Homo sapiens: one gene and its partners. The protein of the gene in region 1 interacts with the protein of each later gene in a pairwise test. Each region holds a gene or a part of one and is shown in the gene's direction. Other genes may lie near its edges.

Region 1 (3,663 bases):
TTCCCGCCTTTCACAGATTCCTGGGCACTGACCACATGCCAGGCATGTTCTAGGTGCTTCGGCAGAACCAGATGATCAAATCTGGACAAGAACCCCGGTGCAGAGACAGGTGTTGTTTTATGCCCATTTACAAATTAGGAAATTGAGCTCCAAGACCTGCAAAGTCACACAACTGATAAGGACCCTACTCAGGTGAGAAGCAGGTGGGTCTGATGCCACAGCCACCTGACCTCAGACTTCCCATCTGTAAAGTGGGATGAGAGTCCTCACCTGCCTAACTGAGCGACTGTGAGGTGCAGATACAAGAAGGCTATGGACACCTCACCTGGCCTGGAGGCCAAGTGACATATGAGGGATTCTTGGGAAAATGCTGTCGGTATTCCCTAAAGATGACAAGTCCAGAAGTCTACAGGGACCAGCTAGGTGACAGAAACAGGAGACAGGGCCAAGCATAATTAATCAGAAGGGGTGGAGACTCAGGCAAAGAGGCCACTGGTCCTGTCCAAAGAGGCAGCCAGCATGAGCCCAGCCAAGTGAAACCATATGGGAAAGCCAACTGCATATTCCCATCACTCAAGAGAGTCCAGAAAGCCAGATGTTTACATGAAATTTTCTGAGTCTAGAAATGAAATGCTTATGTGGGTTCTGGTGGGGTGGTGGCCACCAATCTGCAACCTCTCAAACTTCAGGACAGAACACAAGAGATGCAGAATTAATTAAAACACCACATCAGTCAAAGTATCTATGATTCACAGCAGTGTAAAGCCCATTTGTAATTCATCCCATCCTACGAGCTTTGAAATTATGCTGTTCTTAATGAGGGTGTTTTTAATTCTTAGAGGGTTCCACAGTTTGAAATTTTATGCATAGAATGAGTTCTTATTAATATAATATGCATAAGGAGTCTATATTAATATTCTTTATATGTAATTAAATTGGGTTTTCAAAAAGCTTGATATTGCTTGAAAAATTAAAAAGGGGAGTGGACGCTCTCCTCTAATATTTTAAAGTTCGGTCCTGAAAACTTTTTGGCATTTTTTGTTAGTTTGTTTGTTGTTGTTTGAGACAGGGTCTGGATCTGTCACCCAGGCTGGAGTGCAGTGGCATGATCTCAGCTCACTGCAGCATCCACCTCCAGGCTGAAGCCATCCTGTCACCTTGGCTCCCAAGTAGCTGGGACCACAGGCACATGCCATCATGCCCAGCTAATTTTTGTATTTTTTGAAGAGATGGAGTCTTGCTAAGTTGCCCAGGCTGGTCTTGAACTCCTGAGCTCAAGCAATCCTCCCACCTCGGCCTCCCAAAGTGTTGGGATTACAGGCATGAGCCACCACACTCAACCCTTTTTGGCATTTTAAAACTTGAGTCCGTAACTGGTAACGTTTTCTCAAATTCCCCCACAGGGGATGTAAATCAGGAGGCTGTGGTGAGCAGCAGGAGGGGATGGAGATGGGTCTCAGCTTTGGGTGCAGCAGGCCTGCGTTGAGGTCCCCACCCTACTTTCCTAACGGTGTAACTAAGACAAGCCTCTGCCTCCCATTTCCATGCCCCACTTCTGTGTCTATAAAATGCGCCTTCTAGGGGAAGCAATGGGGAGGACACTCCCCCAGCTTCACCTGAGGCTTCCCGTCTCTGGGGATTCTGTTTCAGTACATTTCCCCCAGCTTCACGTAAGACTTCCCATCTCTGGGGATTCTGTTTCAGTTGATCAAGTGTGAAGAAGATCTCCCCACCCCAAAGCCCAAAATCGAGCTTCCTGAGCGTTTCCGCATCCGGCCGGTGACCCCAGTGGAGAAGTACATCAAGGTTTGAAACGTTTTTAAATACTCATTTTTTTAAAATACTCATTTTCCTAAGTAAGAAATAAGCCCCAGTGGAAACTGATGGCTCCAGATGTGCAAAGCCAGCACTGAAGGTAAGAGCACAGCAGTGCCAGGTGCAGAGTCCAGGTCCACGTCCTTCCCAAACCCAGCCATGGGAAACATGCCAGGCTAAAGTCTACAAGTGCAAGCACCATGACCTCCTGCTCTGCAGAAGCAGAGAGAAGGCAGGAAAATGGGGTCTTCATGCGTTCTTTCAGCAAACATTTCCAGGGTGTGGGCAGGAAGGCAGGGCAGACCCAGGCAGGGACTCTGGAATCAGACCACCAGATCCCTGTGCTGATAGGCTGCTCACCTTCTGTGTGGTCTTGGGCAAGTGGCTTGACCTCTCTGTGTCTCCCCTGCCTGTCTTATACAATGGGGGTTAATGAAGCACCTACTTCAGGGAGTACCCTCAGGGTTCAGCAGGCTGCCCAGCATGTTTAGAGAGTGCCGATGACAGTCAGCTATTACTAAGGTGCAACAGCTTGGTTGGGAAAACAGTAATGAACAAGAAGGCAAGACCCCAGCCCACATGTCTGGGTCTAGAGAACCAACATTAACCAAGAAAATCAACACCATTTGGATACGCTATGCTAGCACCATGGAGGAAACAGGCCGGTGGTGTGTCACAGGATAAGAGAGGGCGGGGTGGTCAGGGAAGGGGCCCTTTGAGCTGAGGACTGAAGGATGACCAGGCACCAGCCCTAGGAAAAGTATTCTAGGCGCAGGGAACAGCATGTATGAAAGCCCTGAGATAGAACACAGGCTGCTATGTTTCAGGAACAGCAAGGCAAGGCGATGCGACAGGAGCTTGGGTGGAGGGTGGGGGCAGGAGGAGAAGGTGTGGGTGGAGAAGGGATGTGAGTGGAAAAGTGGGCAGGCTAGAAGAAGGAGTTGCAATTGGAGTCCAATTTAGAGAAGCCGCTGGAGGGTTGTAAGCAGGGCCATGGAAAGGCAAGACCTGCCTATTGGAAAGATGGCTCTCATTGCTAGTGGAGAAAAGATTGTGGGGAGAGGGACAGGAGTGACCAGGCCAAACCCAGAGAAAAGAGGCCTTAGACGATGCTCTCACCTGAAGCCTGCACCACGGCGGACATGGCTCAGATCCCTCTAGAAACAGTTGAGCTCCATATGTCTCATGGGTCTGTCATTTTGGCTGGGAGTTCTGCCCTCTGCCCAGCTATGGAGAAGGTGGTTCTGCGTGCTGATGGGGAGAGCAGATGAAAACCCAAGATGAAGGCCGCAGGGCAGGAGGAGTTCAGCTGCAGCCTTTTGCCTGGCATGCTCGTGGTCTGATGGGGTAGCTGGCACATAGTGAGCATTTGGGGGGTATGCATCTGTGAGCCCCAATGAATGAATGAATGAATGAGCTCCACTGAGTTATGTTGACAGTTTTTACCCCAAATATAAAGCAATATAGAGTCACTGCTAAAAAATATTTAGAAATACACCAAAATATAATATAATTAAAACCCACATATAGGCTCTTACCCATGATTAACATTTTGGGGGTGCTCCTTCCAGAGGTTTTCCTACACATCCCTTGACCTGTAAGAGTAACCACCCCACCAGCTCAAGCTATTATTATCTCTTAGCCGCTCACCGTGGTGACTGCTTTACATTGGGTGTCTCATCTTACTTCCACTGCAGCCCCGGATATTATCATCCTCAAACCCATTTTGCAGATGGGAAAGCTGAAGCTTAAAAAAGCTGAATTCCTTTCTCTGGCCACACAGCAAGTGTGTCTGATTCCAGAGCCCTGCTTTTAAATGTTACCCTCAAATATTCCTCAAATGTATGT
Region 2 (2,493 bases), on another chromosome or scaffold:
AAAAAACAAAGAATGAAGCTACCATATGACACAGAAATCCCACTGCTGGTGCTAAACTCATCTTTAGCATCAAACCTAATCTCTAGTCCCTGACACCATGAGCTACTACAGCAGCTACTATGGAGGCCTGGTATACATCCAAAGGAAGGGAAAACAGTATATCAAAGAGATATGTGCACTCCCATGTTTGTTGCAGCACTGTTCATAATAGCAAAGATTTGGAAGCAACCTAATTTTCCACCAACAGATGAATGGATAAAGAAAATGTGGTATGTATACACAATGGAGTACTAGTCAACCATAAAAAATAATGAGATCCTGTCATTTGCAACAGAATGGATGGAACTGGTCGTCATTATGCTAAGTGAAATAAGTCAGGCACAGAAAAACAAACTTTGTATGTTCTCACTTATTTGTGGGAGCTAAAAATTGAAAACAATTGAACTCATGGAGATAGAGACTAGAAGGATGGTTAACAGAGAATGGAAAGGGGAGTAGGTGGGTGCAGGGTAGGGGTGGGGAGGGATGTGAGTGATGGAGGAGTAGGGGTGGTTAATGGGTACAAAGGAATAGAAATGATGAATAAGACCTAGTATTTGATAGCACAAAAGTGTGGCCATACTAAGTTATACTCTCTTAGTTATTTTAAAATGTATAATTAAATTGCATTTAAATTAAATTATTGATTTAATCGAACATTTTAAAATAAGAGAGTGTAATTGAATTGCTTTAACACAAAGGATAAATGCTTGAGGGGATGGATACCCTATTTATCATTTACCAGTGATTATTACTCCATTAACCAGTGATTAGTATGCATTGTCATGTCTGTATAAAAGTATTTCATATACCCCATAGATATATATACTCTACTATGTATTCTTAAAAATAAAATTTGAAAAAAGAAAAATAATATTTAATGGAACTTCATGGGAAAAGTGTATGCAGAGGAAAAGGTACACTTTTGAAGTTAATGGATGAATAAAAAATTGGGAAGAAGCCTAACAAAAAATTGGCAGAGGAAGCTAATTGAAGGTTTCTCATAGAAATTAAGGCAAGAAAGCTTTACAAAAGAATGAATGGATGGAAGGTTAGCAATGTCAAAGGTCAATTAAAGTTCAAATGAGTCAAAAACCAAGGTTTCCTCTAAATTTGACTACTGGAAATCACTAATGACTTTGTGACTATGCCCTGACTACCATGAAGAGAAGTCCTTGGGTTCTGGGAATGAAGTAACCAAGACGATGGACTGCAAATTAAAAAGAAAAGCAATATGAGGTTATGTAATTACAGCGTTACTGGAAGCTATCAACCCGATTAGACCATTTTAATTACAACACCAGCCTGGCCTTTGAAGTGGCTATAATCATTTTTCATCTTCAAAATATTTTGTTCTTAGGAATGCAAACTAAAGACTAAAAGTCTTTAAATAATAGTTTGGACCCTTTGTTACATAAGAAAAGAAAAAAAATAAACAATTGTTAGACTTAAAATTATTCTGTTATGTGGAAATAAGATCACCTGTCATTGTTGTTCATGACACCCACTACTTAGAGTATAAAATCATTCTGAGAAGTTAGAGACACCTACACTCAGGAAACTCATCATTAGCATTGAACTGAATCTCTAGTCCCTGACACCATGAGATACTATGGCAGCTACTACAGAGGCCTGGGATATGGCTGTGGAGGCTTTGGTGGTCTGGGCTATGGCTGTGGCTGTGGAGGCTACAGATATGGCTCTGGCTATGGAGGCTATAGATATGGCTGCTGCCGCCCATCATGCCGTGAAGGATATGGATTCTCTGGATTCTACTAAAAAACTTGCTGATTCTCATACTCTAACTCCAAGATCTTGCCCGTATGCTTCAGCAAGGCGAACACTTTTCTCAATGTAGAGAAAATACCTACCATTTTTTGGCTTCATGCTCCAGAAGGAACTAGCCATCAGTTTTTATGGAAGAATCTGGAATCATTACATTGAATCAGGGTTTCACCTATTATTATTTAGTCACTGACATCTGTTGTGACATGTATTTTAAAATAGTTTTAAATAAACACGTTTAACTTGAATAGCAAACATGGCTTTATCAATTCATTTTAGTACATTTCAAATGCATTGATGAGACTTCAATCAAGCTGTTTGTCTTCTTTCCTCTGAATTGGTGTTTTTATTTCAACAGTTTTGCCTCAATAATATATTTTATTCAACATATATTCATTGTGTGTCTCCAAATTTGGGCACCATTCTAAGTCCTGAAGATATAAAAGAATAAGATGGACAAAATCACTGTGTACTTTCATCTGTCTTTACTTTTTATCTGTTTTCAGTGGTTTTGTGTGTGATTTTGTTTTTAGAATATGATTATGTACACTATTATTTTTATGACTTAGTTTTAAACAATAACTTATTGCAATCTTCATTCCAATTAGTGTGTTTGTATTCTGAGGTTTATCTCAAAGCACAGTAATTCTATGTTAATCAATGAAAGCG
Region 3 (2,771 bases), on another chromosome or scaffold:
ATTCCAATAAGAAAATGGCTAAAAAGAAAGCAGTTTCATGCTAAGCATTTTTTTAATCCAACATCTTGTTGATTTGCATCTCATTTGGCTTCTGATTCCTCTGCATTGTGCAATTTTCTACTTTAGAACTTGAGCCATCTTATCTGAAAAAATGGGTCAAGAAAATATGTACATGTTTTTAAGCCTTTCTAAGTAAGCCATTTCTAAAGGTTTTACCAGTTTAGTATTTTTCATATTCTAAAGTAATTCTAAATCATCATACTAAATTTTCTACCTTTATCTACTTTTAAAACTTTATTTTTAGAGTTTTAGTGGTTTAGATGAAACTCGGAAATGTCTCTATTCTGGACCACAGAGCCTGGAAGTAAGACAGGGGTGTTCAATGTTTTGGCTTCCCTGGGCCACATTGAAAGAAGAATTGTCTTGGGCCACACATAAAATACACTAACACTAATGACAGCTGATGAGCAAAAAAAGAAAAAAAATCACAAAAAAATCTCATAATGTTTTAAGAAAGTTTATGAATTTGTGTTGTGCTGCATTCAATGCCTTTCTGGGCCACAGGTTGAACAAGCTTGCTGTAAGATGTTGCTAAATCTCCCCAAGTATGTTTCATAAAGCACTGACCTATAGAGCTAATCTCTGAAAACAAACAAAAAGCAGTCCATGGTCAAGTAAGTTTGGAGAAAAATATATGCTATATCTCTGTATTGAAAAGTCATAGAGCATTTTAGCACATTAAAGGCTCCGAGAGGCCCAACAATGAAGAATTCAGCATTTCCCAAACTTACTTACCAGAAAACACTTTCAAGTCCCTTGGAACCAGTGTTCATGGAACTCAGTCTGGTAAATACTGCATCATTTAGCTTCTGAATGGCCCAATACAACCAGCCTTTTGGTTATAAATAATCTCCATTTATAACACAGTTGGATGGAGCTTAAAGGACACCCATCTTTGTCACCCATGAAGGTCTTCATTCCCACCTGCATGTTCTTACCAAGTTATTGTTCAGAGCATATTTGAAAGGAATGCAGAACAAACGATTTGTTATAGCTCTGTTTGAAAGTGCCTCTTTACACAAAACCAAAATCTATTTCTCTATAGATTCTATCCATTCATCTTCATTCAGTTTATTGGAGCCACAAATAATAAATCTAAAATGTTATATCACTTTTTCAGCCTGAGGGCCTAAAGGATCACATAGAACCTGTAGTCACTGGTAGAACAGCAAACAAAAAGCTTACTTGTCCTCTTCATCTGAAAAGTAAACAAAAGAAGTGGGAAACGTTTGCAGATGCCTGGCATACCGAGCCATTATTAGTGAGGGTATAATGATTAGAAGATAATGGCCCGGTACCTTTGAAGACTGGAATGAAGATTTCTGTGTAGTGACACACTGGCAATGTGAATAGTCCTAATTTGACAACAAAACAACCTAAATCTCTTTTATGAGGTGAGCAGTGTATCTTAGGTAATAAACACTTAAGTAATTAGGCATTTTTTATGGAAATAACTATAAACTGAAACATGGGGGAAAAACCCTCAGTAATAGGCTGACGCCCAGGGAGATGGGTATATAAGAGCCAGAGCAGAAGAGAGGAGCATCGAGACACCAACAGACTTCTCTCAACTCAACAAAAACCCACCTCCCATTGCCATGTATTGCTGTGCTCTCCGCTCCTGCAGCGTCCCCACCGGCCCTGCCACCACCTTCTGCTCATTTGATAAAAGCTGCCGCTGTGGAGTCTGCCTACCCAGCACCTGCCCACATGAGATCAGCCTCCTTCAGCCCATCTGCTGTGACACCTGCCCCCCACCCTGCTGCAAGCCTGATACCTATGTGCCAACTTGCTGGCTGCTCAACAACTGTCACCCGACTCCCGGACTGAGTGGGATCAACCTGACCACCTATGTTCAGCCTGGCTGTGAGAGTCCCTGTGAGCCCCGCTGTTAACCAGCCGAGTCTGCACAGGTTCCGTGAGGTGGCTGCCCAATGTCCTCTGCACCATCTGGGCTTCAGCACTCACTACTGCCTACATCAAGGCTAAGGCCATCCCAATCCCCGGGGCCAAGTCTTGATGAATCTTCTTAATTATTTGCACATTTGGGTACCATTGGAGACCTCCCTTCTGTCTTTTAGGCTATTTCATCACTCTTTGAGAAATAACCATTTTGACCATTTGTTAATAAACTTTATTCTGGCTTAGCAAATATGACCTTGTGATTATTTATTTTCATGTCTCCCATTAGGGAAAGTGGAATGCCTACCTAAACCTGAACAGTAGGTTATCACACTATCCAAGATTTACCCCAACAGAATAAGAGCTCTCATAGTGGAATTTATCGAAAAAATAGATACTGGTTATTTGTGATAAGTTAAAAAGTAAAAAATGTGGTAGTTCATTTTATAGAAGCTTTTTATTTAACAGATATTTATTTAATAGATATTATTGGAAGACATCCACTGTGCAAGCACTATGCTAGAGTCTAGAGATTAACAGAATGTTTTAAAAATACTTGATTTTAGTTTCCATTGATTCTGACATTGATTTTTCTTTCTTCCTTAATTGACTAAATGAATTGATCACTGTGCTGGTGTGTATAAATAATTTGATTATCCTAGTCCTCACAGTCATCTGAAATTCTGAGCTCAAAATGCAAAGCAATTTTGAGAAGTGTATATATCCATTTCTTCATATATGCTGTCTTCCAAAACAATCCATTTTTAATTAATGTTAGCATTTATCGAGTATTCATTGATTCCTCAAAT

The links.
Region 2: the proteins of CIMIP1 (region 1) and KRTAP19-6 interact in binary tests that used the Homo sapiens proteins (3 or more experiments, as listed by UniProt).
Region 3: the proteins of CIMIP1 (region 1) and KRTAP3-1 interact in binary tests that used the Homo sapiens proteins (3 or more experiments, as listed by UniProt).

What each region holds. Positions count from the first base shown.
Region 1 is NC_000020.11:58,153,764-58,157,426, forward strand, and holds part of CIMIP1 (ciliary microtubule inner protein 1), read left to right. Parts: intron 1-1,704; coding exon 1,705-1,806; intron 1,807-2,934; exon of another isoform or gene 2,935-3,066; intron 3,067-3,663.
Region 2 is NC_000021.9:30,540,982-30,543,474, reverse strand, and holds KRTAP19-6 (keratin-associated protein 19-6), read left to right. Parts: upstream 1-1,610; 5' UTR 1,611-1,641; coding exon 1,642-1,818; 3' UTR 1,819-1,940; downstream 1,941-2,493. UniProt on the Homo sapiens protein: In the hair cortex, hair keratin intermediate filaments are embedded in an interfilamentous matrix, consisting of hair keratin-associated proteins (KRTAP), which are essential for the formation of a rigid and resistant hair shaft through their extensive disulfide bond cross-linking with abundant cysteine residues of hair keratins.
Region 3 is NC_000017.11:41,007,962-41,010,732, reverse strand, and holds KRTAP3-1 (keratin-associated protein 3-1), read left to right. Parts: upstream 1-1,604; 5' UTR 1,605-1,658; coding exon 1,659-1,955; 3' UTR 1,956-2,212; downstream 2,213-2,771. UniProt on the Homo sapiens protein: In the hair cortex, hair keratin intermediate filaments are embedded in an interfilamentous matrix, consisting of hair keratin-associated proteins (KRTAP), which are essential for the formation of a rigid and resistant hair shaft through their extensive disulfide bond cross-linking with abundant cysteine residues of hair keratins.